Linked DNA regions of Homo sapiens: region 2 is linked to region 1. Evidence: fine-mapped expression QTL. Tissue or cell type: visceral fat. Region 1 holds a variant in brackets; the other region holds the start of a gene. All regions are shown on one strand. Distances are between the middles of the regions.

The links. PIP is the estimated chance that this variant, and not a neighbour inherited with it, causes the effect.
Region 2: RGCC starts here. The variant in region 1 is fine-mapped to the expression of RGCC in visceral fat (GTEx, PIP above 0.99). The same link has a PIP of 0.9 or more in breast and subcutaneous fat.

What each region holds. Positions count from the first base shown.
Region 1 is chr13:41,605,168-41,615,392 of GRCh38, reverse strand. It overlaps VWA8 (von Willebrand factor A domain containing 8), which reads left to right. Exons shown (of 45, transcript NM_015058.2): 38 at 309-417; 39 at 3,661-3,817; 40 at 10,117-10,225. Among named protein-coding and RNA genes, the nearest start is that of MIR5006, 42 kb to the right of the region's middle. RefSeq lists an enhancer at 1-979. The variant A/G (reference allele first, on the strand shown) is at 4,737.
Region 2 is chr13:41,451,645-41,461,869 of GRCh38, reverse strand. It overlaps RGCC (regulator of cell cycle), which reads right to left and starts at 4,320. Exons shown (of 5, transcript NM_014059.3): 1 at 4,114-4,320; 2 at 3,400-3,585. The coding sequence starts at 4,162. RefSeq lists enhancers at 1-30, 3,278-3,407, 3,457-4,134 and a silencer at 3,708-4,547.

The sequences.
Region 1 (10,225 bases):
AAGTCTCATGCCATGTGTAAATGCTCACAGCTTGGTTTGCACCAGAAAAATTCTGTAGCTATAATGCAGTCCAGCTCCTTTACTTTTCTTTAAGAGTTTTTTAAAAAATTAGTTCTTCTTCCCAACTAGATGGATGTTGGAATCCATCTGATGGAATTTTTGCCAAATACTCACAGCATTTATCAAGTCCAGTGGCCTGAGGTTATGTGATACCTTAAGGACTTAGGAGAAAATAATTTTTTTTTCTGTCATGCAGTCCCTGGTGTTTGTCACAGGATAGTAAAAATGTCTCAATTGTTCATTTTTAGATAACAATCAACAGAGACAGTGGTGAAGATGTAAGCTCCCCCAAACACGGGAAGGAGGACCCAGACAACATGCCTCACGTGGGCGGCAACACTTGGGCTGGCGGAACAGGTTGGTAGCACAGGCATTCTCCTGAGTCAGCCTTCCCCAGGTTTCCCAAGCCCATTAGGCCAGCACATCGCCCCTGAGAAGACTCAGAGACGGGCTTTCCTTCTCAGCCTCCCTCATTACTCAGTTGGATTGTTGTCTTGCCCTCTGCCCCAGCGTGACATCAAGGCATGTGAAGAGCCTGGCATTTGGAGTCCCACAGGCTCTGCCACCCTGTGACCTAAGAACATGCTGACCCTCCTGGAGTTGCTTCATCAGTCAAAGGGGGATAGTGTGAACTACCTTAAATTGTGGTGAGGATTAAATGAGATTACGATTGTTAAGCACTGAGCACAGTGCCTGGCATGAAGAATATTTTCACTAAAGTGTTAATCCCTTCTTTTAAATTCCATGACCTTGGGATCATGCCAGAAATCCACAGTAAATTCTTTCTTCAGCAACTGACTGAAAAGAAATGGTCCTTGTCTTCCACATCTTCGAAGTACGTTGAGGATGCAAGATTTCGAGATAAGGCTGGTTGCAGTCTAAACCGATGGCCGACTCCTTCCTCTTGGCTGCCCAACTAGGGCATTGTTCCCAGGACTGCCGTCTTCCTTTTTCCTCTGCGGCAGCTGGAGCAGACACATCTGCGAGTCCACAGGAATAGGGCCAGACTGTGTGCGCACTGTCTGAGCTTATCTCACCATGAGGAGTGCTGGCAGGAGCTCTGTACTTCACCTTCCTTAGGATGGTCTGTGCCTCTTGGCCTTGACAGCCTCGGGAGGAAATGGGTTTCTCTGCTTAGACAATGTGCTATCAAATAGGCCTGTGGACTTCTTGCCTACTCTGTTTATTCATCAAGCATCAGCTTTAAAGTAAGGCTATTTTTAGAAATGTCCTTTGATCTGGAAGTTAGCGTCAAGCCAACAAGATTTAATCCATATGGAATGCATTGTGGGACGAGCTGGCCAGATGTGGTTTCCCAGCAGTGGACTACTCTGGGGGAGAAATTCCTATTTGTTACCAAACTTGAATTTACTAGCTCACGTATCTGTCCAGATTGAGGCTACATTTGTTTCACCTGGCTTTTAGTTTTCAATTGATCAAGGCTCCTTGGCTTCAATTTCTCTTTTTCTCTCTGCCATTCTTTTCCCTCAGAATTCTTTACTTTGAACTGAGCTCTGGCCCAACAAGTCATTTGATTCCCCTTTCTTCATCAATGCTCCTCCCTTGCCCACCCTCCCCATTATCTTCTGAAGTGGTTTGGAATGTCCAGGCTTATGCCCTGCAGTCTTAGAACCTCTGGTAAGCACTTTCATTTAAATAGTACAAATTAAAGGCTCTGGGAAGTGGAGATCATGAAGAGCACCTCCTGCTCCACCCCAGTGTGACTTTGCCTGGGGCCCTGCGACTCAGGTGGCCAGTCACTCACACCAGCTTCTGATGGTTCCACCACTTTCTCCCTTTCACCAGAATGATAACATCTCAGCACCTAGGAAGCTTTCAGCTCAAATTCATGATCCACCCATACTCAGGATACCCTCCTGTAGGAAAGGAGTTAGATCCCAGAAACACCTTTTCCTCCTATAGCTCATTGTCACTGTCCAGTTACTGTACCCCTCTGCCTATTGGCTGGCCATGAGTAAGAAATGGGAGTCACACACATCCCAGAAGGAATTTTCCACCACCCATTTCTAAATAAAAGTGAAATATGTTCCAATCAAAAGATTAAAGTAGTGTAATTAATAGGCAGTTCTCATGGTATTTCCCAAAAGGAAATGACCTACCTGGACTTTCATAAGGAAAGCAGTTCATATTGAGTTCTTGGTTTTAGTTTTGTTAGACCAGTTAAAGCTCAGTGGTAAGGTGGAGGTGGGGGTGGTGATGGTGAAAGAAAAATGTAACATAATTTACCCAAAGTCTAAAAGCCTTCAAATTTTCCACTTTATAAAACTAGAAATTGCCTAATTCTGTGTAACTAGGCTTTGTTTAATAATAATAGTAAAAGCAGTCCATTATATGGCTTTTATTATGTGCCAGATACTGCTCTAAGCATTTTAGCTTCATGACAATCCCATGAAGTAAATAATATTAGTATCCCCACTTTATAAAGAGGAGCCTGAGACACAGAGAAGTTAAGTAGTTCCCCAAAGATAAATGGCTGGTGGGTTGGAGCCAGGATTCAAACCCAGGCAGTCTGGTTTAACTATATCATAATATACTCTACAATAGCAGTGTATTATACTATACTGCCCCTCCAATATTGGATTCCCTTCTAAGTTCTCAAGTTATACGTGAATGAACAAAAGAAACAGGTTACTAGTATTCTAATCTACCCCTAAATAGGGGTAACAATCTTATAGCCCAAAGGCCAAATCTAGCCAACAGATGTGTTTTTTTCTCTGGTCCATGTAGTGTTTTAAAATAATTTCAATTTTCATGTATTTAGACAAGGTAAATCCTAAGTTAGCCAATGTCCCCACCACTTTTTATCATATGACCTACCTGGCCTTACAGGCATTTACAATATGAACAGTTCATACAATGTTATGTTATAAAACGTAATATGTATATGTAATATGTATTATGTAAACTTGAGTTTCTATTGAAAGACTGTTCTAAAGCTGATGGTGTTTATGTTATATATTGTTCAAACCAGAAGTCAAAGTTGGTGTAATAATTGGCTTCTAATCTTGGCTAAGCCAGTGATACGAGGTCCTGAATATGTCATTTAGCCTCTCTGTGCATTATTTTTATAATTTGCAGAACAGAAAAAAACAGTATTTATAGCTTAACTGTCTAGGTTTTTTAAGGAAAACTAAGGTAATATGTGAGGGAGGGAAACAGTTGTTCATTTAATTAGCAAATATATACTAAGTATCTATGATATTCAAACCACTCTTATAGGTGCGGTAGTGCAAAAGTAAATAAAATATCTCATCCATCATATAGTTGGTGAGAAAAATAAATATGAAAGGATAACAAATAGTACACAAGAGTATGGATCCTTATGAGGTAGCAGCATTAGCTAAGGTGTCATAGAAGCTGGAGTAAGCCTTGATATATAGGTAGTATTTTAATGGATGGGAAAAAGGAAAAGCATCCTAAACAAGAGAATACATCTTTTTCCAGAAGGTAATTTGACTGTTTAATTACTAGTTAAGTACAATTAATATCCTCCACAAGGCTGTCCTAAAACCATGACCCAACTTTTGTTCTGTGGTCAAGTTCAGATTTATCATCTGAATTTCCACGTTTTCCTTCCAGGGGGAAGAGACACGGCAGGCCTGGGTGGCAAAGGAGGCCCTTACCGGCTGGATGCAGGCCATACGGTGTACCAGGTCTCTCAGGCTGAGAAAGATGCAGTTCCCGAAGAGGTCAAGAGAGCTGCTAGAGAGATGGGCCAGAGAGCATTCCAGCAGAGGTCAGTGCTCCCATCACATTTAGACCAGCACTACTGCTATGGTGAAATGTCATGATGGACTGTGGGGAAACCTAGATTTGTGTGTGTTTCCACCTCCACCTCATGCAGCAACTCGGACCTCAAACTGAAATCCACAGCCATCCCCGTCCCTAACGGAAACAGCCAAATAAACAAAATCACCTGTTCTTTCTACTCAGGCTCCTTAAAATCTAAAGCTCAAATCGCCCCATCCATGTCTATCTGTTCCTAGGCAACATAGGGAATTCAGGTAAGTCTACACAATGGTCCCTTCCTGCCCTCAGAAATCTTGCAGATTAGTGCGGAGACAGGACAAGGGAACATACATACACACATGCACAGAGTTAAGTGCTAAAGTCATAGGGTGCGGAGGCTGTCCCCTCCAGCAGTGCAGAGAAAGGCAAGTTTAGTGGGCTGATGTGAGGTGGGGCCAGAGCTCAGCTAGGATTTAGAGATGGGAAGAGAAGAGCTAGGATATTTCAGAAAGGGAAAACTAAATGAGCAGAGGCACCAGGGCAGGATGAGCATAGTGTCTATGGAAGAGAGAGGCAGCTAGCCCACTCAGGATAATGGGTACCAGCTCGGGAGGAGGGACAGTGAGTTTGGATAGGGAGGCCTCATCAGTGAGTAGAGGCCTTAATCTAGGCCAGTGAGCCTGTGGCCCTCGGACATTCCCCAGCTGTTCTGGGCCACTACAATAGGAGCCATTTAAAAAATAAGAAGAATCCACATGATGTTACCCTAGACATCCACATGTGTGCTTCAACTAAAAGTGAAAAATACCAAAGAACCACCAGTATTTCCTTTTAGATTCCAGGACCTGGTAGTAGTTTGGGAAACAGATTTACATTTTTGTGCTGCATGAAAGGAGATGGGCGCAGTTAGAAAAAAGCATGCTAAA[A/G]TGTATGAGTTATGAAATTCCTCCCACGTAGAACATCTGGTATTACATTACATGCTGTGCTTCCACATCCTGCAAGTAAACAGTACAGGACAATAGAGACAAGAATGCAGGCCCTGCCGCCACACCCTCAGGAAAGCCTGCCAGCTCAGACCCTCGAGGGTTCAGCAGGTAAATAACACACTTGATGCTAGAGGCAAGAGTGTTGCTCTCAGCCCTTCTGCTGGCTTCCCTGGTGACTGTTGACAGTTTATCTGTCCTCTTTGTGCCTGAATTTGCTCTTCTGGAAATAAAATTCACTCTCCCTTTCTCCCAGGGAGGTTATGAGAACAGGTAACTATGTTAGGAATGAAAGTGTTTATGCCTCTCAAAAAAGGGTAGAGAATAGTGTAGTGAACAGTCTTGTTAGAATGAAAGTTCTCTGCATTTCTTATGAATTATAAAGTACCCATTTAGAAAAAGAACTAAACAATTGGAAATGTGTCATTCTCCCCTCCGCAATTAATGAGTTCTGTTGTTGCCACCCTTAAAACCTGCCAAGTAATTGTTCAGTCTAATTTTTTGCCCAAGTGGACAGGTAGATAAGAGTGTTCTGGCACACACATAGTTCACAGGGAGGCAGAAAGGTAACAGTGCCTGGCCACAAGTATGTACGCCCTTCTCCTGTTGCCATAATAGGAGTAAGGAGTGTGGTTCTCTTCAGGACAATTGCCCTACAGGGGAAGAAGTAAGGGGCATCTGTGCCCTTAACGCAAATGAATTTAGCGGATGTAAGAGAGGAAAGAGAGGACATGGGGAAGGGATGAGGAAAATGTACACCTCTAGTAAATGCTGCAGAGAAGAGTCTCAGTTGAAGTAAAAGAGAATACCGTAAGGTGGTTGAAAGACAGAGGAGTTGGCCAAGCGTGTGAGAAAGGAGAGAAAGAAATAGAAACACATGGAGATCCTGAGAAAGATGGGGCACAGCAAAACACCAAGAGAAAGATGTTGCTTTCTACTTTCATGTAGAAATGGGACTTTCATCCCATTTGGTGAATATTTCATTTAATGCTGCTGAAAATTTTTCAACCTTTTACTAGGAACTTTTCAAACATAAAAGTTGAGAGGAACATATAATGAATGCGATGGACCCGACCCCCCAACTTCAAGAGGAAAACTCTGGCTCTACTCCTAGTCTTCTCTGCTGGCTTGTTTTGAAGCTAATCCAAGACTTCTATCATTTCATTGTCAATATTTCCAAGTGTATCTGCATAATATAAAAACAAAAAAATACAAACTCACAATACTATTATTAAGTCTTTAAAAAGTAATAATTCCTCGCTATCATCAAATAATAGGTTTTAAAACGGTTTTGCCACTTAGGCATATGCAGAATGAGGTCGGTTCCCACCATTGATGCTTTTATGGCATCCTGTACCTTTTCTCCACAACTCTTATCACTCTTTCCCGTTATGTGATTTGTGTGAATAATTGGTTGTCTCTCCTCTGACTGTAAGTTCCTGGGGGGCAGGCATCCATCTGTTTTGTGCTCTAGTATAACCCCAGGACCTACACCAAGAACCTGGTATGTAGCAAACCTTCATATGTATTTGTGGAATGAATGACACACACGTGCATACAAGTAATGGAATCATCCTTTAGTACTTAATTCAGAGACTGGCTGAAACTAGGCAGTCCTAGCTGTGAGCCAGAAAGTTTGTGTAGTGCCTTGGAGAGCCTAATGCTGCTAAGTGGGTTCCTGACATCATCAACACAGCATTTTGATAGCATCTGTTTATATCTGGTTTTAAGCTAGATACCAGCCCTTACATATCAAGAATGTATTAACTCAGGCAGACTAACAGAGAGAGACAAGCATAAAACATGAATAAAATAGAACAGAAACATTATACCAGTGAAAAGCAAATGAAATAGACAATGAGGTACATGTACACACTTAGAAAAGCGTCTAGGGTAGGCACCAGCTGTGGAGATTGCATCCACTACCATTTGCAAAACTAATCAGCCTCACACAGTGGATCTAAGCTTATGTTTGTTTTCCTTATAATTGATTCAAAATTATAGTATTTAAGTGTGACCTATAAGAAAAAGTAAAATGAGAACTAAAATTCCCAGACTCTTACGTAACAATAAATATAACCTTTAAAAATATACTGTGCCAACAAAATGCAGTTAGTCCACAAAGATTACTAGGATGTGAAGCAGCTGTGCCCTGCAGTTTTGATCAGGGTTAAAGAAGCAGAAAGATATGTTTCCAGCTAGTTTTGTGGGCCTGAGAGTATTAGCAATGGGTACCTCATTTGATCCAGAGGCTAAAATTTCTTTTCTTTCTACATCCCTTGCTTCAGTCATCATCTTTCAAAATTTATCAGCTTTGATTGCCTTGTAGGTGATCTTTCTGAAAACCGACACAATCTGGAATATGGTTTCCAGATTTCTTCATAATTAAAACAGCATGTGGTGTGTTTTGGGTGCAACATGATCGCACCAGTGGTAGGCCTATAACTGAAGCTAATTCTGATCACTCTGCAAAGATCAGTCTGCTCGAGGTGGCTTACCAAATGGCTAGCTCCTTCCTTGATATGTTTGTGTGTATGTATGTACATATGTGTTTTTATGTGTGTATATAGGTTTGTATTTGTGTATACACCTACAACCCATACCTCCAACATTGCATGTGTGTGTGCGTGCACACACACACACACACAGTAGTTTAGAAGATTGTGTTGTGGTTAGGCTTTTGAGACGTATGTTCATTATTCCCTGTCCTAATATCAGTACCTTTTATATTTATAGAAGTATATGGCATATTACCTAACATATAATGGATGCTGAAAATGAATTGAATGGCTGAAATAAAAATACAACTCAGGATTATTTAAAATGCAGCATCTTAAACTAACTGTAAGTAGAAAGTTCATTTGCTGGGTGACCTCTCTTGGGTTTTACAGAGTCGTATCCATAATGCGCTAATTTAATCACATATTTCTATATATTCTCTCCTCCATCCCCTCCCCACCCCACAGACAGCTGTGTCTACATTTGTTTCTAATCAGTGCTAATCTCACTTATTTGAGAAGAAGCATATTGACATATAAACACACACCGGTTTAGGTATGAAGGGGTAGGTGGCATGTCCTGCATTGTTCATTGTGCCCAGCTTCTGTCAGCCTTGATACTTGAGACATAACTTAATCTAATAAAAAGTCATAGAGAGATTTCAGAGACTGCCAGAAACTAAATACAAGAGGTATTGTCAGGAGGTCAAGTTCTATACACATATTTCTTTTTATTCTTCAGGACTGAGAGTTAATTAGATTTAGAAAGGCACCTTGGCATGTCACCTCAAGATACAACCATTCAGATATTATAGTGGCCTTGTCTGTATTTACCTTTTAATAGTCACTGTTTTCAAAGTGCCATCCAGCAGCACTTATTGAGTGCCACTGTGTGCCAGGCAGGTATTGTGGTAGGTACTGGAAGTTCAGTGGAAAAATAGAACATGGTCCTTCTCCCTGAGGAATAGAATAGAAAACATCAGAGTACATCCCATGTAATAAAAGTATTTTTCATTAAATTTTTGGTTCAGTTATCCTATATACATACATGCATTTGTGTATACAAGATCTCAATGTAAAACATTTCCTACTATGGAAAGAAAAATTTGAAAACACCATAACAGAGGGCAACAGGCCTATCTATTAAAGCAATAAAGTATGCGAGTTTCATGGTAGATGTCTGTATAGGGCACATGAAAAGGGAATGGCCAGCTTTATGCAAGGGCTCAAGCAAGACTTCAAAGGATGTGGACTTTGAGCTAGATCTTGAAACCTAAGTGGGTATTATCCAGTGGGGTGATAGGGCAGGAATGTCAGTCTGCCCCATGGTAGTCTAGGCCTAGCATTACATAATTGTAATAAGCCTCTGGCGCTCTCCCCCATGGTGAATGGATTTTTCCCAGTGCTCAACCTGACAGGGAGGAATACAGAACATTTATTCTCATTCAGTATTTGAGGTTTCTGTTTTAGCTCAAGGTGATAAAAAATACACATTAGATAAGAGTTTCAGCAATACACCTAGGATTCATATCTCCAACATTGCATGCATATACATAACACACTAGTTTAGAAGATTATGCTATGCTTGGGCTTTTGAGATATGCACTTATTATTCCTTGTCCTAATATCAGTACCTTTTATATTTATAGTAATTTATAGAAATGTATTATTAAGTTAATGTATTATGGATACAACACTGTAAAACCCAAGGGAGTTCACTCTGAACTTTCTACTGACGGTTTAAGATGCTGCATTTTAAGTAATGCTGAGTTGTATTTTTATTTCAGTCATTCATTTCTACTTATTTTGAGCACCCATTATATGTTAGGTTCCATGCTAGGCACTGTAAAGATAAAGATGAGAAAGACTCAGCCCTTACCTAAAGGAGTATAGAGCCTAGTTGGGGAGACAGGAGGCAGATAGTTACAGCATGGAGAGCAAATTCTCTGAGGGAGGAATGAAGTGAGATAAGAGCACAGAAGAAAGACCCGGGGATCAGAGCAGACTTCCTGGAGGAGGCAATCATTGACTTGAGTCTTGAAGAGTAAGTGGGAGTTATTAGGCAAAGTCAGGGGAGGGACACTCCAAGTGGGAGAGAAGCACTTGCAGGGCATGTGATGTGTACGGGGAGCTTCTAGTGTGCTGGTGGGGCTTCAGTGAAGCAAATGATAAAAACTGATAAAAAGGAGCAGCATACTGGGAAGATAGAATTTCAAAGCCACAATAATATTAAAATACAATTGTCCTGTTTAAATTACACTGTCAGCAATTTTAGAAAACTCTCACATAGGGATACATAGCAGCACATTAACTTACATTCTTTAGGCTTGAACTGTTATCTTGGTCAACCAAATACATGATCTCGATCTTAAAAAGCAACCCATGGGAACCCTCTTAGGAATCTGCCACATGAACTGATCGGCTGCAAACATCACAATATGGCTTTGGGATATAGCAATGGTGTGTACCACAAAGCCAATTCATACTGGCTCATGAGAGTCAATTGTGCACATTTTTTTCCAACTCACTGTTCATAGCTTGTAACTGATCATGGTGGCAATGTTTACATCATGGAAATCAGCAAACACTACAAATCTAGGACTTTTTTCTTGTCCTAGTTTGTTAACCATTTACTAGCACACTACTGGATGTTACCTCCTTTGAATCTGGAAGCACAGCTGGAGACATCACTTCTTGCCTTTTCTCCTCAACATGAATCTGAGTTTCCAAGGAGTTTGCTAAAGTTCCAGCAGGAGGCGAATGGAAGTAAAAACCCACATATACGTGATTTAAGCTGTTAACTTTTTATACTCTTCTGATTTCAGGCTAAAGGAGATCCAAATGAGTGAATACGATGCTGCAACCTATGAAAGGTTTTCAGGTGCTGTTCGGCGACAGGTGCACTCCCTCCGAATCATCCTGGATAATTTACAG
Region 2 (10,225 bases), 150 kb after region 1:
CTTATTCTCTCATGGCTTGAACAAGTTCAGGTTCTACCTCAGTGGCTTCTAAGCCACATAAGCCATCTGTCATGCTGGTTCTCCAGGGCCCACAAGGTCCCCTCTCCCAGGGCCAGGCCAGAATAGCCTAAGCAAAGATATGCAGGTGTTCTAAGTCTTGCTGATGCTAAAGAAGCCAGTTCCTCATTTCCTAAATGGTCCTACAATATCATAATAACCCTAGCATACACAGTAGACTTCAGACCTTTTCTGTTGAGCAGCAAAACACTCCCCCGTCAAAGGAAAAATTATGTGAAACCCCAATACCTTAAAGGTATAAGTGCATACCACCTTTTAAAGTTTAAGTTAATATTATAAACTTCTTATAAAGTCAACACACTGGTTAAAACTTGAAACATAATGAGTTAAAATTCCATTTAACACATTTGAGAAAACATGGTTTACCTTTTACAGTTTTAAAAATACTGAAAAGAAGATATATTTCTAAAAATAAATTCAAACCAAAGGTAGTCAATTTCTAAAGCACCTCTGAGGATGAAGTTTGAGAAACACTACCCTAACTCTTAATTGCATTGCCCTTTCACTACTGAAGTTAAAATCACTCCCACTAAAGTGCCTGATTTTTTTACATGTTGGAATCAAGTCTAAACGAAAGTAACAACACTATTTTGATCAACCACATTTGAACTCCACACCCCCCACCCCACCATGTGAAGTTATACTGCAATTGTTATTTTGGTCCTCTTCATGTCTTAAGAGGCCTCCCTGAAAGTGGGAACAGGAAGGAATATTTCCTTATTAAATATCTGTTCTTCTTTCCTATCTGAGTAACTTGTTTCTTTCAGTACGAGGAATGGCTATTTTTTGCCTTTGGGTGCAAGCAACCTAAATTTTTTTTAATGATAATAAAGAAGTATTCTTCAAAGAACAGGCTTGCTGTTTGATCTTCCTTGTAAGGTTGGTGCACCTTCAGACAGAGCTGTAAAAACTAGAGCAAAAAACAAAGGTAACATTGGTTTACATATTCATCCAAAATATTTTCATGCGAGACACTGGCTCCAATGTATCTATATGGTATAGCACAGCATGTACATTGTAATGATATTTTGAAAGTATTCAACAGAGCAAATATTTTCTCCCTAATAGCACTATTAAATAGCATCCTTTCAATTTCACAGCTAGAGAAACTAAATCCCACTCATCACCCAGGGCCTTGACAAGGCTCAATCTAAGCTCTACTGACCCTGCCAGATGACCACCACCTCAAAGAGACACCTTCATAAACAGCCATCATTGACAAACAGGCATGTGATCTGGGCTCAAAAGGACTTCAGTCTATTCGTGAAGACATGGTTCCCATTCCAGCTAATAAATCATCATCATCATCATAACAAGCGTTTGCTAAAAGTGAGCTGCTGTTATTATCCTTATCCTGGTGTGTCTCCCTCTTGATGAGCTAAATTTCAGTAGTATCTACCTCTCTTAAGCATTCTCTCCCATAGAAAAGCATTAAACAGACAAACGAGGATAACAAATGTCTGTACTCAATTCTTGGCAGCAATTAAGATATACATATTATGCTTCCTTAAGAAATTACTATTTAGATACACACAGCTTCTGCCAACAATATTTCTGACTAGCCTTGTGAGAGAAAAACTACACATTTAAAGCAAAGACAAATGTCATCTGAGCTTTCTTTATGTTCTTCCCATCACTTCTCTAACCACCAAACTAAGGGTTAGTCCGTTAACAACAAAAGCAGAAAACAGACACATATAACCTAAGCAAAACTACAAACTATCCCAACTATCTCCCCTGAAACTGTTAAGAATGTGTTTCTATGTCTTCTCTTTAAGGCATCTGAAAACAGATTCTAGATCTGAAATCCCACCCAGTGGAAGTTGCAATCAGCCATGAATGGGCGCGCTCAGACCTATTCTAGTAGAGTGAGGCTGTTGCTTAGAAAGGAGCTGTTCTTTGCCACAGAGCAGCAGCGACACACTATCCTAGCTTTCTTTTCCATGCGAGAATCTGTATTTGATGAATAACTTGCTCCATGCCCCAGTAGGAGGAGACATATTTAAGTTTGGCCTTTAGAATTGAGACAAATTTCAAAAATGTTAACACTTTGCTTTGAAATTGAAAATGAACCTATTCATTAAGAACAAAGTCCAAAAATTCTAAGTGGAAAAGTAACAGTACTTTCTTCCATCCCCTTTCACCTCAAAAGCTGCAGCTTGGTCTAACTCTTTGGCAGTGCTGCCAAGGAAACAAGCTGGAACTCAGCTTCCTGAGTCAAACCCTGACCAGGGTGGTGAGCGCATTTATCCCTTTGCAGAAGGGCAGCTCATGTTCATGTCTAGCCCCGAATCTTAGCCCAGGAACAAGGAAGAGCTCCAGGTTTCAAAATAAGAGAATCACACGGAAAGGCCATTACTTTCACGTCCTGAGTCAAGGGCAGCAAAAGGAGTGACATTCATGCCTGTAACCCATCTAAGGATTAAAGGCTGAAGAATAACACAGAAGAGTTTAAAATTGACTTTGCCCTTTGAAAAACAATAAGCAATTCTGGATTTGAAACCAACAATCATGTAATATTAAAAAGGCACCTAATTTGCTGTTTGAGGTACCTGTAATCCTCCCAGGACATGTGAGTTCCTGGAAAAAGCTGTCTCTTTTGTTGTTTTTGTTGTTGTTGCTGTTGTTGACAAAGTTGTTCAGGACAAAGAGACCCTGGGGTAGTCTCCATTGTGAGAAAGATCACCAGGAACCACCTTCATGCCCATGTGCTCTCTGGCTCCCCCTCCAGCCTGGTGGAGGACCTGGCTGAAAAATACTTGAACTCAGCAGTGCCAAAGATTTTCATAACTGCATGCAATGGAGCAACAAGTCTGAGAGCTAAGGGCCAGAAGACAATGCAAGCAGTTATTTCATAAATCCCAAGAACAGCAGTTTGGGCTTATGAAACCTTTCCTGGTTTCATGAATATTTCCGTTCTGCGCCCTCCCATGTCCCCACTGTGCCCCCTCATTCCACTGGCACTTGTTCCACATCTGCAAAGTTACAGCTGAGAGGGGAGAGGCACGGAAAGGAGAAGAGGAGGGAAACTGCGGAAAGGCCTGGTGCAGGTCCAGGGAGTCCTGTCTGGCTGAGTCGGGACAAGCTGCTTAAACTCGCCTGCCTGGTGACACACCCGTGGGCGGCAAGTGAACCAACCTGCCCTCCAGCGACCTTTCCCGTGATTATCGTCAGGGGCCCCGCCACCACTCGGCCTACTGCGTTGAGCTTCAGGAAACCATTCCTCAGTTTACTGATAAGAAAACTGAGGCCGCAGCCTTCGCGGGGCAGGTCCTGGGAGCTGGGAGATCCCGGCGCCATCCTAGCGGGGGCCGCACTTACTCTCCGAGTCGCTGAAGCCGCTGCTGTCGCTGACACTGGCGCTGCTGCGCCGCTTCATGCGCTCCAGGTGCTCCTCGTAGTGGAAGTGGCGCTCGTGGAAGGGCGACGCGAAGTCGGCCAGCACCGCGTCAAACTCGCACAGCGCGTCCGACAGGTCCTCCGCGGCCGCCGAGTCCAGGGCCGGGGCTGCGGGCAGGGCCAGGGGCTCAGTGCACGGAAGTCAGGGGGGCAGCGGGACCACCTCCCAGGGCCAGGAGGGGCCGCCACGGTTCCCGAAGATAACTGACACTTGGCGCCTCTGCCAAGTGACAGCCACGCAGTCGCTGTTACCTTGTAATCTTCTCCACCACCCCCGAAGTGCGTTCTATTACCAAGTCCGTTTTACAGACAAGAAAACTGAGCCTTCGCCAGGCCCAGGGTCACCCAGCGACTTGGCGCGGCCAGATTCCTCCCCAGGCGCTGCCGGTTACCTGTCCCCGCCGCTCCCCCCAACCCCGGGCGCGCGCGGAGCTGGTGGTGGAGGGAAGGTGGGACATGGGGGCCAGCCCGGGCCGGAAAGGAGGCTGCAGCCGCCCGCGCGGGAAGACCGGGGACAGGTTCCCGCCGGGGAGGATGGAAGGGTGGGGGGTGTGAAGGGACGACACGGGGCCCCTCCTTTCTCACCCGCCATCTGCAGAGCCGAGACTTTAAGGGGACCCCGGACCCCGCACTCACCTGCGGCCGCGGCGGCCGCGGGGCTGCCCTGCGCCGCGGGCGGCTTCATGAGGCGGCTCAGCTGGGCCCGGCGCGCGTGGCCTTGGGTCCTGCGAGGTGGCAGCCGGGGCTATTCGGGGGCTTGCTGTCCCGCACACTTCAGCCCTGCCAGTCCCTTCGGCGCTGCGCTCCAGCCGCGCCGCTCCCAGCACGGTCCGCGCCCGCCCTACCACCGGCTCGGGTTCCTAGATCTTATAGCCTTCGGCGGCCGGAGCGGAGGCGGGGCCGGGGCGGGGCTGCGGAGCCGGGGCGACGGGTCTGTCCCCGCCGCCCTCCGAGGAGGCCCCTGCCCCCAGGCACCGCCCTCGCCACGCGCCCGCCCTGGAACCGCGGTGACGAGGAGTCGCCGAAGCCCCGGTTACAGCCCCAAATATTTACCCGCCTCTCGCCCCCGCGCCCTGACAACCCGGCCCACGCGGTGTCCTCGGCGTCACCAGAGCTGACTGCTGGGCGCGAGCTCTGCTGCTTCCCGCCGCGTGCCAGGCACCTCCGCGAGCCGCAGCTTCCTCGGCTGTGAAGTGGACGTGGGCATGCAGAGCCTCCCTGGCTGGCGGTGAGGGACGAAGGAGCCCGCGGCCGTGTCCCAGTCGGGTGTCGGGGACGCGGAGGTCCCCTACGCATTGTCCCAAGGGGACTTCCGAGATGGTGGGCGGGCGGAGTGGAGAGGGTCGGGGCGAGAGGGGCAGGAGTTGGGGGAGTCCTGAACTGTTCCCACCGCGGAGCGCGGGGGCCTGAACTACGGTCCAGGGCGCTCCCGCCAGCCTGACTTTATCTAGAAGGGGTTTATTATGGGAAGAAACTACTGCGTCGACGCAGCGCGAACAGGGCGCCTTGCAGTGTCCACGGAGTAACGAGCCACCCTGCCCCGCGGCCTGCGGGGGCGAACGCCCTGGACTGTGCGCTGAGCTAGGCGCTAGCCTCTCGCCTCTCACCACAGACGGCTAATTAAATGTAGAGCAATTAACATGTAACGGAGTGAAACATTCAGCCTCCACTCCCAGCTAGTTTTTGTATTTTTAGCAGAGACGGGGTTTGTCCATGTTGGCCAGGCTGGTCTCGAACTCCCGACCTCAGGTGATCTGCCCACCTCAGCCTCCCAAAGTGCTGGGATTACAGGCGTGAGCCACCGCACCCAGCCAGGATTTGTTTTCAGAATATAGAAAGACCCATCTACAAAGTAATCACAAATAGACAACCTGGTAAAAATTAAAAATGAGCAAAACATTGAAACATACACCTCACAAAGGAGTATATGTTAATGACCACTAATCATATGAATAGTCCTCCTCTCTTGTCTACTCTGGGTGGCCTAGGGATATGCTTGTCTTGTGGAGGCACAAGCACTGTGGGCTCAAGAGTGGGGAGCCTCTTTCCCTGTTAAGGGGAGGACACCACTGGGATCTCTGGTGCCATCTCCTGCAATGGATCCTCTGATGTGGGGTCGAACAGAACTTCAGGAGTTGATTTCCCTGGGTGAGTGGAGCGGGATCCTTCCTTAGCTATCTGTCCCTTTGCTACTAGTATTGCTGCTGCATGCCCTCAGCCACTGTGGGGGTTCTAGCACCAGCTGTCACCAAGTGTCTATGTATGGGAACTGGTCTAGGTATCTTTACCAGTTACCTTGTGCCACGCCTTAGAAACAAGGGACCTGTCCAGGCTTCCTTCTGATGGCCAACCCACTTCTAATGGTGCGCAATCTATTTCCCACAAGGTTCTAAGTTCCCCTGGTGGTCTAGTGCTTAGGATTCGGTGCTCTCACCGCTGCTGCCTGCGTTCGATTCCCGGTCAGGGAACAAAGAAATGGAGCATGGATGAGCAGCGGACAAAACCCCTCAGACAGCGGATTAAAGAAGGAAGAGTTTTTTTTATTCCGCTGGGAGCTTCGGCAGACTCGCGTCTTAAGAGCCGAGCTCCCGGAAGGAAGACAGAGTTCCTGGCCCGTTTAAGGGCTTACAGCTTTAAGGGGTTCCACGTGAAAGGGTCTTGATGGATTGAGAGCACATGTACTTAGAGTCACGGGGGTTGATTGTTTCACCTCAGGCCGGCTCCTCATTGCCACCGGCTGGTCTTGACACTGACTTCATTCCTGTTGTTTTCCAACTTTTACTTCCTCCTCCTCTTCAGAGACAGGAGACAGTAGCGAAATGGCTTCTCTCCTCAGGGCGACAGGATGATATTACTCCCAATATCACAGGGGGTGTACACACCCCTATGAAACTCTTCCTACTATCCAGAGGGAGAGAGGATGATATTACTCCCAATAGCGCAGGGGGTGTACACAGCCCTGTAATACTCTTCCTAAAATCCACAGGGAGAGAGAATGATATTACTCCCAATATCGCAGGGGGAGTACACAACCCTGTGATATTGTTCCTAATATCCAGAGCGAAAGAGGATGATATGACTCTCAGTATTGCAGGGGGTGTACACCCTCCTGTAATATTTTTCTTAATACCCTGGGAGGGAGAGGATAAGATTACATTGAATATCACAGGGAATGTACACTCTCCCCCCTCTGATACCCTTCCTAATATCCAGGGGAAGAGAGGATAATTTTCCTCCCAATATCGCCGAGGCAGTACACCCCCTCCCCATGATATTGTTCCTAATATCTAAGGGAGGAGAGGATGATGCTTCTCCCAATAAAGCAGTGGGTGTACATTACCCCTGTGTTATTGTCTGTAATATCCGGGGCGCGGGGGGTGCAGGGGAGAGGATAAGATTCCCTCAAATTTGGCAGGTGGTTTGACACCCCATGTGGTATTGTTTTTAATATCCAGTGGGGAAGACAATAATACTACTCTCAATATCACAAGAAATGTACATCCCCCTGTGATATTGCTACTAATATCCAGGGATAGAGAGAATGATGTTACTCCCAATATCGTCAAAGTGTCCACCCCCCCCTTTGATATTGTTCTTAATATATGGAAGGCAAGTATGATATGACTCCCAATAAGAAAGGGGGAATACACGCCCCTGTGATATTGTTCCCAGTATGCTGTGGAGGAGAGAATGATATTACCCCCAATATCGCAGGATGTGTACACCCCCCTGTGATCTTGTTCATAAGGTTCAATAGAAAAGATAATCTTACTGGAAATATCGTAAATACACTGTGTGTCCACAGTGGCTGCTAACATGCAGGGAGGGACGGAGGTTGATATTACTCTGCGCATCAGCGGGGGCTGTCCACACGCCTTCGATGTGGCTCCTAATATCCATGGGGAAGGGGGGGTAGATATTACTCCCCGCATCACTGGGGGTGTCCATCCCCTGCCATGTGGCTTGTAATGTCAGGAGGGGCTGATATTTCTCCCCGCGTCGCGAGCGTCGCCCGCCCCCCTGCGATGTGTATCGTAATAGCCAGGGAAGGAGAGGGGCGTGATATTACTCCCCGCATCGTGGCGGAGTCTATCACCGGTCGGGATACTATACACCCCCTGGGATATTGGGAGTACACCCCCTATGATATTGGGAGTAATATCATACTCTTACCCCCGAGTATTAGGAACAATATCATGGAGGGAGTGTTCACCCCCTGCCATACTGTGAGTTATGTCATTTTCTCTACCCGTGGACATTAGAAACAATATCACAGGGGTGGTGTCCAACCCCTGCGAAATTGGGTGATATATCTTCCTCTCCACCTTTGGATATTAGGGACAATATCACAGGGGAGGTCTACACCTTCTGGATTATTGGGATTAATACCATCCTCTCCCAGCCTGGATATTAGCAACAAGATCACAGAAGGAATGTACACCCAGTGCGATATTTGGAGTAATGCCATCGTCTACCCCTGACTATTCGGAACAACATCACAGAGGGGTGTACATTTTCTGCGATATTGTGAGGAATGTCGCAATATTACTTATCGCAATTAATAACATCAATTATTGATTGATATTAATAACATCAATTATTGATTGATATTAAAACATCAATTATTGATTGATATTAATAATATCAATATTAATAACTGATATTTTTAAATCAATACCGATAATCATAATTTCTATTACATAGTTCTACCAATGATAAAAATAAATTATTAATATTAATTATTAATAACACCTGATATTAATAACTGATACTGATCTTATTCATTAGAAAACAGTAATATTAGCTCCTAATAATATTAATATTAATAATCTGAAAACTTTTTATTAGCAATTATTTCTTAATATTAATATTGGTAATTCATATTCATGTTAATAATCAAGGTGTAATAATTCATACTAATATTACTCCTAATACCGCAGTGGGTGTACACCCACCTGTGATACTGTTCCTAATGTCCACGGAAAGGAGAGAGCATGATATTACTTTCAATATCACAGTAGGTGTACACCCACCCGGTTATATTGATCCGAATATAACATCCAGGGGGTGGAGTATGACGTTACTCCCAATATAGCAGTGGGTGTACATCCACCCGGTGATATTGCTCCTAATATTCACGGAAGAAGAGAATGCTATTACTCGCAGTATCGCAGGAAATATACAACCCTTCTGTGATATTGTTCCTAATATCCGGAGGGGGAGAGGGTGATATGAGTCCCAATATCGCAGGCTGTGGACACCCACCCTGTGATATTGTTCCTAATTGCCAGGATGGGGGAGGACGATATGACTCCCCATACAGCAGGAGGTGTACACCCACCCTGGGATATTATTCCCAATATCCATGGAGATGAGAGGCTGATATGACTCCCAATATCTGAGTGGGTGTACATCCATTCTGTGATATTGTTCTTCATAGTCAAAGGCGGAGATGTTGATATTACTCCCAATATCACAGAAAGTGTACAAACCCATGTGATACTGTTCCTACTATCCAGAAGATGAAAAGATGATATTACCTCCCATATCGCAGGAGTTGTACACCTACTCTGTGACATTTTTCCTAATATGCAGGGCAGGACAGGATAATATTCTTCTTAATAGCACAGGGTGTGTACAGCCACCCTGTGATATTGCCCTTAAGACTGCAAGTCAGAGAGGATGATATTACTCACAAAACCGCAGAAAGTGTACACCACCCCAGTAATATTTTTTCCATGATCCAGGACAGAAGAGGATGACATTACTTTCAATATCACATGGGGTGGACAAGCCCCCAGTGATGTTGTTCCTAATTTCAAAGTGGGAGAGGATGATACTACACCCAATGGCGCTGGGGGTAGAAACACTCCTGTGATTTTGTTCTTCCTATCCAGGGGGAAGAGGATGTTATTACTACCAATAGTGCAGAAGATGTACACCCTTCTGAGATATGGTTGGTAATTTCCAGAGGCGGAGGAGATATTACTCACAATAAAGTAAAGAGGCTGTGTGACCACCGTAGCTCGTAATATCCAGGGGGGGAGAGGGGGGTGATATTACTCCCCGCATCGCGGGGGGCGCCCGCCCCCCTGCGATGTGGCTCCTAATATCCGGGGGGGAGAGGGGGGTGATATTACTGCCTGCATGTGCACACCTCCTGTGTCATTAAAAGTAGAATTGCCCTAAGATATTACGAAATATAACACAGGGAGTACACCCCGTGTGACATTATAAGATATTAGTTACTCCTAGGATATTTTCTCTCCTGGCACACTTGGTTATCACCGTGGGACATTATTTTTGATATTCTAGGATCATGCCACTACTAAAGTCACATGGGGGGTGTGCACCCAGCGATATAATTCGTAATATTGTAGGGGAATGTTAATGCTGATGTCACAGGACTCTACACACTGTGATATTATTCACTATAATATAGCGGGACATTAATAATAATGTCACAATATTTGTACACCTTCTTAATCTCCTAAGGGGAGGTTACTTTTGTGGTCACACGGGGTGTATTCCCTTTGATATTATTTGTAACATCCTAGAGGGATGTCACTCCTTATGTCACAGGGTTTGTACGCCTTATCAAATTACTCGTATTATCCTCATAAGATGTCAGTCCTCATATCAAGAGGGTGTACGCTCTGTGATATTATCGTCATATTATAGGGAAATGTTACTTTTAATGTCACAGAGGGTGTACACCTTGTGAAATTATTCATTATAGGTTTGTGGG